Regions from separate parts of the Homo sapiens genome. Here region 1 is linked to region 2. The links come from fine-mapping of genetic effects on gene expression. Tissue or cell type: whole blood. Region 2 holds a variant in brackets; the other region holds the start of a gene. All regions are shown on one strand. Distances are between the middles of the regions.

Evidence for each region. PIP is the estimated chance that this variant, and not a neighbour inherited with it, causes the effect.
Region 1: HK3 starts here. The variant in region 2 is fine-mapped to the expression of HK3 in whole blood (INTERVAL, PIP 0.97).

Annotation. Positions count from the first base shown.
Region 1 is chr5:176,896,969-176,901,968 of GRCh38, forward strand. HK3 (hexokinase 3) reads right to left here and starts at 2,378. Exons shown (of 19, transcript NM_002115.3): 1 at 2,299-2,378. RefSeq lists an enhancer at 3,198-3,699.
Region 2 is chr5:177,017,547-177,022,803 of GRCh38, forward strand. ZNF346 (zinc finger protein 346) reads left to right here and starts at 5,150. Exons shown (of 7, transcript NM_012279.4): 1 at 5,150-5,257. The coding sequence starts at 5,193. It also overlaps a transcript of UIMC1 not described here. RefSeq lists enhancers at 4,854-5,257, 4,915-4,964. The variant T/TA (reference allele first, on the strand shown) is at 2,382.

The DNA.
Region 1 (5,000 bases), 120 kb before region 2:
TGCAGAGCAGAAAGAGCCCTGTACTCAGAGGTGGGAACCCTGCTCTCCACAAGGCAGCTGCACCCCATCTCAACCTCCAGGCTTTTCATCTGTGAAATGGGACCAACATGTATCAAAGGGTTGTGTGGGGCAAATGAGATCACGAGAGCAAAGGAACTTGCTCAGATGTGCATTCAGATTTATGTAGTTGAATCTGAACTGAAACTCTATGATTCTCCATTTCCTCTATAACATGAAAAGCTCAGTTCTTGTGAGGATTAAAGGAGTTAGTGGTCCTTTGCACACTGTAAGGAACTGTAGAAATGTCAGATACTTCGCTCATCCGAGCTGGAGGTGGTATTGCTGTTTCCATAGTCCCAAGGGAGCCCTCAGTGAGTCAGGTGCTCTTTAGGGGTGGGGGAAAAGGGAAACACAGCAGAGGGCCCAATATGGGAAGAGACATCTGTCCACTGAGTCACTTTACCTCCCTTCCTTGCAACAGCAGAACTTCTGGAAATATAGTACCTTCCCACCCCTACACTCCCCTCCTTGCCTACTCCCACTATGCTCACTAATTTGCCCTCCACGTGGTCACTGGTGACCTCCTAACTGCCCAATCCCAAGCCTTTTCCTCAGTCCCCACCTCTGCTGCCCTCTCTCAGGCATGCAAAGCCAGTAGTCATTCTCTTTGCTACAGAATTCCCCCTGTCCTTGGCTTTCACGGCCAGTCTCTCCTAGGTCTCCTTCCTGAGTCTCTCGTAGTCTTCATCAGTAATTTCTGTTCCTTCAGACAATGGGGTTCCCAAGTTTCGGTCATGCCCTCCCTCTACACTCCCTTTATCTCGCCCATTCCCAAGGTTTCATTAATAGCTGTGTCAGGGCTCCCAAATCTACCTTTGGCCTCAGCCAAATCCTAAATCCCAGTGGTCTGTTAGACATCACTATCTGGATGGTGGAGAAGCTCCTCAAATTCAACAAAGCCATACTCATTTTTCCATCACCTTACCCCCACAAAGCTCTTCTGTTCTCCACCTTGACTGGAGACATCGAAGTGTGCTCACTCACACGGCCGTTCGGGCTGCCTGCGCGCATCCCTCACCCTCACCTCCTCTATGCAATTGGATCTCAGGCTCTCTAAGAGCTCTCCTCTGCATCCCCTCCTCCCCATTCCCACACACTGCACCAGACCATCCTCCGGCCTGATTATTACAACAGCCTCCTAAACTGATAGCTCTGCTTCTAGTTTCTTCACCTCCTTACCCCACCCAACTTGATCACCTCTGCACTCATGGCCGGCACAGGGTCTGGTATAGGTATGTGCTAATGTGCCTTTCCAAAATTGGAAGCAAGGGGAGTGGGTAGTTTTTTATTTAATAAAGCAACAAATCAGCTTCTGATAAATCTCCCCAAACCATACATACCTATGCTGAGTTTCCAAATCTGTCAAATAGGGGTGTGGAATTCTTGTTCTATGCTGCAGGTCTATTTCAAGGATAAAATGAGGTAACTGGGGCAATTACCTTCGAAAAGGACTAAGGGCTACACACGTGTCTTTCTCAAGGCCCAGCTAGTTCATTTATTCATTCACTCACTCATTCATTCCCTCATCCATTCAATATTTATTCAGCATTTTTACATGACAGAATCTGTGAAGCAATCCCCAAGTAGCCCTAATATTTATATGCTAGGTAAATGTATTCAGCTCTGTCTCTTCCCACTGAGATTCCCTGTGGGGAGGGACATGTCTCCTTCACTGCAGTATCCCCAGAGCCCAGGGTCTGTTTGCCTAAGGGCCCCGTGGCTTCCCTTAGCTGAATGGGCTACACGAAGTGAGTTTTCCTCCTGAAAAGTACCCCAGGGACCTCTACTGATGTTGGGAGCTGCCATCGAGAACCAGCTGGCAGGCTGGGTGTGGTGGCTTGCACCTGTAATCCCAGCACTTTGGGAGGCTGAGGCAGACAGACTGCTTGAGCCCAGGAATGTGAGACTAGCCTGGGCAACATGGCAAAACGCCATCGCTAGAAAAAAATAACAAAAATTAGCTGGGTGTGGTGGTGTGCGCCTGTAGTCTCAGCTACTCCGGAGGCTGAGGTGGGAGGATCACTTGAACCCAGGAGGTCAAGGCTGGAGTGAGCCCTGACTGTGCCACTGTACTCCAGTCTGGGTGATAGAGAGAGAGACCCCATCTCAAAAACAAAGAAAGAGAACCAGCTGGCTTAATCTTTCCAGTGTCCACTTCCCCTGGTGTGAGCCAAACAGGAGGGATGAGGACAAGACAGCTGTGGAAGGAGCAGGCAGTAATTAGACCGAAGTGCTTACCTGGGACACAGAGAAGCTAGTCACTCTCCTCAGGTCTGAGCTCTTGTCTGGCAATATGAGGCACCCCAATGACCAAAAGCAACACTCAGGGGTGACCCGAGTTATAATATCCTCAAGCCCCACCCTTTTCCTCCACCACCACTTACCAAACATCAGCTAATTCAGGAAGCTGCACTTCCTTCCAAGCCTGCCCTAAGAGTAGCCCAGGCTAGGCAAGGCTGTGGTGAAAACTTGAGCAAGATGATTACCGCGAAGTGGAGCGTTGAACTGGGTCTAAGATTTTGGGCCATTCCCTCTACAATGCTGAGGGCTGTTTATTTTGCAAATATAGTGAGTTCTGAGGTGGTGGCTCGCCCCTAGAAGGAGCTGGAGGCGCCTAGCCTGGAAAGGTTATGGTAAGTACTTTTGAGCAAGAGGCAATGTGGGAGCACAAGCGGAAGGGACTGACTCTGCCGAGAGTGGGCAGGGCTAGCTGAAGAAGCTGAGTCTTGAAGAAAGAACAGCAGTATGCTGACAAAAGTGGTCCTTGACAAAGTGGAGAGCATGTGCACAACCACAAATCACACACACACAGCAATGAGGTGCAGCTCCAGGCGCCTGAAGAGGGTACACCAAGGTAGGAATATATAGTGGGAGAGGAGGTGACAGGCAGACTGCGGAGTCTAGCCTTTAGTCTGTAGCCTGCGCAGGGAGAGTAGGTTCACATCTTAGGTCTTCTCTACTGGAAGAAGGGGAGTGTTAGGCTGCTGTGGAGCTATTGGCGAACAAGCTGTTTTTCTGTGGGAATTTCTCCTCAAAGGCACAGAACCTTGGGGCACCAATGTAGAATACTAGACAGCCTGCAACAATCTTTGTTGAAGGCATGGATACACTTTAAAGCTTCAGGCTGCCTTGTCAGCAGTAACTCTATCCACAGATAGTAGGCCTCCACATGACATCAGGATGGAGACCAGAGATAGTGGCTCCTCTATCAGTAGTGGCATGAAGAGGCCAGGAAACATGCCAAACATCAGTCCTGCTGTGAAGTTTACTGGGTACCAACCAGGCATATAGGCTGTGAAAGGCAGGGAAGTGGGGGATGGGGTGGCAGAGGGTAGAGTGGCTGTCACAAACAACACAGCATCCTGCCTAGCCTGGGATCCCAGTCCCTTTCAACTTTGTTCAGTTGGGAGAGGAGAATGTGGAACTGACTATGAAAGGCCCAGCTGTGATTCATGCAGATAGCCTGCCATTTCTTGAGCCAGGGTGAGGATATGCCCCTGACAAGCATGGCCAGGGCTCTTCATCTGCGTTTCTGGAAGGTCTGTGTCCAGACCCCAGGAGCAGGGGTCCTGGTTCCCTAGTCAGAATGCCAGGGAAAGTCTGGGTCAAGGCCAGTGGAGGGAGAAGGATGGCTGAGCTTGAGGTCTGTGAGCAGCTGGGACAGCCTGGCTGTAGCAGAGGCACTGCAGCTGCCAGCGGTTCTCTTCAGACACCAGATGGCCACTGACCAACAAAGGGAAGGACAAGTCCTCACGAGGTTCCCTCATAGCCCCTTAGTGCCAATCTCCAACTGTAGAGATGGAGCTAAGGAATGAGGAAAGGCAGTTTGCTGGGGGAGAGGTGGGCACAACCAGAGCACTGCCGATGGGCTGGGAGGTCAGGCCTTCCCTCTGCGCTTGCTCACAGGCTTCTCACCACTCACAGTGCCCATGCCAGGCACAGAGATCCTCAATAAGCTCCCCCAATTTGTTCCACACCCTTTATACCGTGAATGTGCCTTGCAGCTCTCCTACACACATCGAGCTACTTCTGTTGTGTCTTTGTTTGCACTGACTTGTCTGGAATGACCCTCCCTTTGGCCTCTCCCACCTTTTCACCTCATTTTTCCTCATCCCTTAAATTATAATCATCAACGACAATGAGGAGCCCTTCTCTGAAAAGCTCCTCCTGGCCGACCCCAGCTGAGTGTGGTCTGCTTATTGGTTCCGTATTATGATGCATGTTCTTGTATCACTGCATTTATATCTGTTTATTAAAGGCATCTGTTTATGTGTTCTTCTTCCCCATTGTACTATGGGCTCCCAGAGAATGTTTCTTATTCACCCGTGCAGCCTCAGACCTCAGTTCTTTATCTGGCAAGGAACAAGTATCAATTAATTTTTGTTAAATTGAAGAGCCCTCCCACAATCTCAATAGTCCACGGCTGGCCAAGCATGATGGCTCACGCCTGTAATCCCAACACTTTGGGAAGCCGAGGTGGACGGATCACTTGAGGTCAGGAATTCATGATCAGCCTGGCCAATACAGTGAAACCCCGTCTCTACTAAAAATTAAAAAAATTAGCCGGGCGTGGTGGTGTGCACCTGTAATCCCAGCTACTCGGGAGGCTGAGGCAAGAGAATTGCTCGAACCTGGGAGGCAGGGTAAGTTGCAGTGAGCCGAGATCACGCCACTGTACTCCAGCCTGGGTGACAGAGCAAGACTGTCTCAAAAAAAAAAAAAAAAAAAAAAAAAGTCCAGGGCTTTTGAAACTGAGAGGAAGCAAGCAAGCTCTTACTGTCTTCCTGGTGCATATGGTTTCAGCAGTCTTTCCACTAGTCCATCTTTCCACTGACAACTACAACCCTCTCATCCACTTACTACCTGCCTTCCCCTCCCCAAATTCCCATCTGCTAACAACCTAAGGCCAAAGCTACCCTGATTCACAGGCAAAAATGAGC
Region 2 (5,257 bases):
CTAGCTAATTTTTGTATTTTTTAGTAGAGACGAGGTTTCACCATTTGAACTCCTGTCCGCAGGTGATCCGCCCACTTGGCCTCCCAAAGTGCTATGATTACAGGCCTGAGCCACCACGCTGGCCCTTTTTTTTTTTTTTTTGAGACAGGGTCTTGCTGTGTCACCCAGGTGGTAGTGCAGTGGTACAACAGCTCACTGCAGGCTCAAGTGATCCTCTCACCTCAGCCTCCTGAGTAGCTGGGACCAAAGGCACACACCACCACACCCAGCTAATTTTTTTAATTTTGTAGAGATAGGGTCTTGCCATGTTGCCCATGATGGTCTTGAACTCCTGGGGTCAAGCAATCCTCCCGCCTCAGCCTTCCAAAGTGCTGGGATTACAGGTATGAGCCACTGTGCCCAGCCTAGTCATTATCTCTGTTATAGCAGTTAAAACATACTCTCTGATATTACATACTCAGTAGATACTTTTATGTCTGTCACTAGATTAGACATACTAGAGTTAGAAAAACTAGAGTTTAAGGCTGGGCGTGGTGGCTCACACTGGTAATCCCAGCACTTTGGGAGGCCAAGGTGGTCAGACCACATGAGATCAGGAGTTCAAGATCAGCCTGGCCAACATGGTAAAATCCTGTCTCTAATAAAAATACAAAAATTAGCTTGGTGTGGTGGTGCACACCTGTAGTCCTAGCTACTTAGGAGGCTGAGGCGGAGAATTGTTTGAACCTGGGAGGCGGAGGTTGCAGTGAGCCGAGATCGCACCACTGCACTCCAGCCTGGGTGACAGAGTGAGACTCTGTCTCAAAAAAAAAAGAAAAGAAAGAAAAACTAGAGTTGAATCTCTTTGAGAGCAAGAACTATATCTTAAGCACTATAGTTTCGTTTGCACATGCACACACATGCACATACAGAGTCAGTATTTAAGCAACTGAAATGTATGCTGAACAGTAGCCAGTTCCCGTCCCTTAGCAAAGTCATTTCCCTGGGATTGTTCATCTCCCATGGCAACAATACACAGTAGGATGTGTTGGAAAATGGTTCTCATTTTCCACAAGGAGGAAATAAAAAGCCAGCCCAACAAATATAAGGCATCACCTGCACTGCCAGGTCCCAGCAAGGAGTCCAGGCCTGGGCCATTCCTGGAAGCACTTACACAAAGACAAAATAGAAAACTGGTGACAATGAAGGCTGTTCAGACCCTCAGCAGGGTAGCTCAGGACTCTGCCTCCATGGCACAGGGGATGAACCCTGACAGCACTCATTGGAGAATAAATGGACATTATTTTGAGCATGTAATTGGATTGGAGGTTGTTTTCCAATAATATGCAAAGCAACTTATATACTCCACTCCCAGTATTTGTTACATAGTATTAAAAATATCCTTGTGGGTTCTGCGACTTCGACAAAAATCCCCTGTATCCCTTGGATTATCCCTGAATAACTTATGCTATATGCAAGTGTAAGTAACTAGAACTCTTAAGATAAATAAGTAGTTTGTGACCATCCTGGCTAACATAGTGAGACCCCGTCTCTAAAAGTAAATAAATAAATAAAAAGAGAATAAATAATGTGCAGTCACTGACTTTTAGGCTGGTCATCTGGTTTTGGCAAAAGGACATAGATTTGCAATCTAAGGACCAGTGTTCAAGCATGGGCTCGTACCTAACTAGCTGTGTGATCTTCACAAAACCTTTACCTTTCCTAGTCTGTTTCTTTATCATCACTTATGAAGAAATCCCTCACAGAAACCACCCTGAGGATTAAATGCTATAATGTAGGTGCTTTGCAAACTGTAAAGCACTGCCCTGGGCTGGGTGTGTGGTTCACACCAGGAATCCCAGCACTTTGGGAGGCTGAGGCAGGAGGATCGCTTGAGCTCAGGAGTTTGAGACCAGCCTGGGCAATATAGGGAAACCCTGTCTCTACAAAAAAAAAATTTTTTTTAATTAGCTGGGCATGTTGGTGTCCACTTGTAGTCCTTGCTACTCAGGAGGCTGAGGCTGGAGGATCACTTGAGTGTGGGAGTTCAAGGTTACAGTGAGCTATGATCATACCACTGCACTAGTGAGACCCTGTCTCGGAAAAAAAAAAAAAAAAATTGTAGGCTGGGTGTGGTAGCTCATGCCTGTAATCCCAGCACTTTAGGAGGCCAAGGCGGGCAGATCACCTGAGGCCAGGAGTTCAAGACCAGCCTGGCCAACAAGATGAAACCCCGTCTCTACTAAAAATAGAAAACATAGCTGGGTATAGTGATGGATGTCTGTAATCCCAGCTACTCGGGAGGCTGAGGCAGGAGAATTGCTTGAACCCAGGAGGTGGAGGTTGCAGTGAACTGAGATGGTGCCACTGCACTCCAGCCTGGGCAACAGAGACTCCGTCTA[T/TA]AAAAAAAAAAAAATTGTAAAACACTGGCCAAACATCAGTCACCTACTGTATTGGAAGCTTGGAAGCTCTAGGGCCTGAGGCCTGACATAGTGCTGGTGCTCAATATTTGTAGTATAAATAAGGAAATACTTGTAGTATAAATGACTAAATTACACCAATGAGCTATATGATCTCAAGCAAGAATAATTCATATCTGTCTCTCTTTGGCCTCCTCTGATATTACTTTCCTCCTTGTTCACTGGGCTCCAGCCATGCTGTCGTTTTTCCTGTTCCTCCAACACATCATGCTCTCTCCTGCCTCAGGGCCTTTGTACCTGCTGTTCTCTCTGCTAGAACACTCTTGCCCAGCTCTTTGCATGGCTACGCCTTCTCATTAATCAGGTCTTAGCTCAAATGTCATTTTCCCAGAGGCTTCTCCTGATGCCACCCTGATTAATGTTCCTAACACATCATTCACCTGAGATGCAATCCTGTTTTATCTTCTCCTTAGCACTTATTATTGTTAACTTTTTTTGTTTTTGAGATGGAGTCTCGCTCTGTTGCCCAGGATGGAGTGCAGTGGCACGATCTCGGCTCACTGCAAGCTCCGCCTGCTGGGTTCACACCATTCTCCTGCCTCAGCCTCCCGAGTAGCTGGGACTACAGGCGCCCGCCACCACGCCCGGCTAATTTTTTTGTATTTTTAGTAGAAACGGAGTTTCACCATGTTAGCCAGGATGGTCTTGATCTTCTGACCTCGTGATCCACCTGCCTCGGCCTCCCAAAGTGCTGGATTACAGGCATGAGCCACTGCGCCAGGCCTACTGTTAACTTTCTTATTGTACTCTCCTCCACTACAATAAAAAATACTTTACTACAGCTTCCCTGTCTTGTTCACCACTATATTTCCATGCTCAAAATATCATCTAGCTCATAGTAAATTCTCCATAAGTATTTGAAAAAATGAGGTTGAAATAAGCTAGTAATATTAAAAGCTTCATTCATTAAACAAATGTTTTGTATATACCTAGGAGGGTCCAGGTTCTATTTCAAAGTGCTGGAGATTCAGGTGCAATGACAAGAGACAAAAGGCTACGCAAGGTGGCATGTGCCTGTAATCTCAGCATTTTGGGAGCCCGAGGCAGGCAGATTATGAGATCAGGAGTTTGAGATCAGCCTAGCTAACATAGTGAAACCCCGTCTCTACCAAAAATATAAAAATTAGCTGGGTGCCGTGGCATGTGCCTGTAATCCCAGCTACTCAGGAGGCTGAGGCTGGAGAATTGCTTGAACCCGGGAGACGGAAGCTGCAGTGAGCCGAGATCGCGTCACTGCACTCCAACCTGGCGACAGAGCAAAACTCTGCCTCAAAAACAATTTAAAAAAAGAAAGAAAAGAAAAGAGACAAAAATCCCTGCCTTCCTGGGGCTTGCCTTCTAGTCGGGAGACAGACAATAAGCAAGATAAAAGGTAAAATATAAAAGAAATAAAGCAGGAAAGAAGGACATGAAGTGTGTGTGGAAAAGTAACATTTTAGATGGGATAGCCAGACAAGGTATTTTAGATAGAGTAGCCAGAGAAGGAAGTGGGAGACTGAGCCATGAAGATATATGAGAGAAATTCACCCCAGGAGGCCTGGATAACTGGGACAGGAATTAAGGAGTTGGGGACTGAGTAACACATCAGGATCAGGGAGGTTAAGGGAAGTCAGATTGTACAGGGCCTTGTTGGTCGAAGTAAGGACTTTGGCTTTTTTTTTTTTTAGTCGGAGTTTCGCTCTTGTTGCCCAGGCTGGGGTGCAATGGCGCCAGCTCGGCTCACAGCAACCTCTGCCTCCCGGGTTCAAGCCATTCTCCTGGCTCAGCCTCCGAGTAGATGGGATTACAGGCATGTGCCACCACACCCGTCTAATTTTGTATTTTTAGTAGAGACGGGGTTTCTCCATGTTGGTCAGGCTGGTCTCGAACTCCGGACCTCAGGTGATCCGCCCCCCCTTAGCCTCCCAAAGTGCTGGGATTACAGGCGTGAGCCACCGCGCCTGGCCGGACTTTGGCTTTTACTAAGAGTGAGATGGGAAGCTGTTGGAGGATTTGAGAACCTAAGCGTCATGATCTGACTTGTCATAAGAGGATTCCTGGAACTGCTGTGCTGGGAATGCCAGTGAGGTTGCTACTACAATAACCTAGGCAAGAGATGGTGGCTCCCAAAGACACGGGAAGGAGCAGCTCTGGGGTTGGAAGATAAAATTTGGGGTCTGACAGCTACATTGGAGAAGCCTATTAGCCATTCGAGTGAACTGTGGAAGAGGCAACTGGATGTATACAGGTCCGGAGTCTCGGGGAAGATCAGAGCTGGGAGCTGGCACTTGGAACTCAACAAATAGTATGTATTATTAGCAGTAATATGGAACCTTAGCTGTACTACTACTTACTAGTAGCGAGCTCTTGAGTTAACCATTTTTAGGTTCTGGGCCTCAGTTTCCCTGTGAATGAAATGGCGAAAACACTCCCACATAACGGGACCTTGAGAACGAAATGAAAAGTATCAAGGGCTGACCGTGAGCAAGGTGAGAGCCATGAGCCAAAACCACACGAGCCTCTCCGGGAGGGGGGGGTCACTGCTGCGGAATCAGCGACAGGTTTCCGAATCCACGGCACACGCTCTGAGGTACCAGAGGTAGCAAAGCAAAATAAGCGCGGGGTCCCGCACGGCAGCGCGGGTGCAGCGCCCAAACCTCGCGAGATTTGTTGGCTGGGCCAAGTACCACCCACCAAATCTCGCGATACCTAGGCGCCTGAGAGGCTCTCTACCGGTGAGGGTTTGCGGGGAAGATGGAGTATCCCGCGCCGGCCACGGTGCAGGCCGCGGACGGCGGAGCGGCCGGGCCTTACAGCAG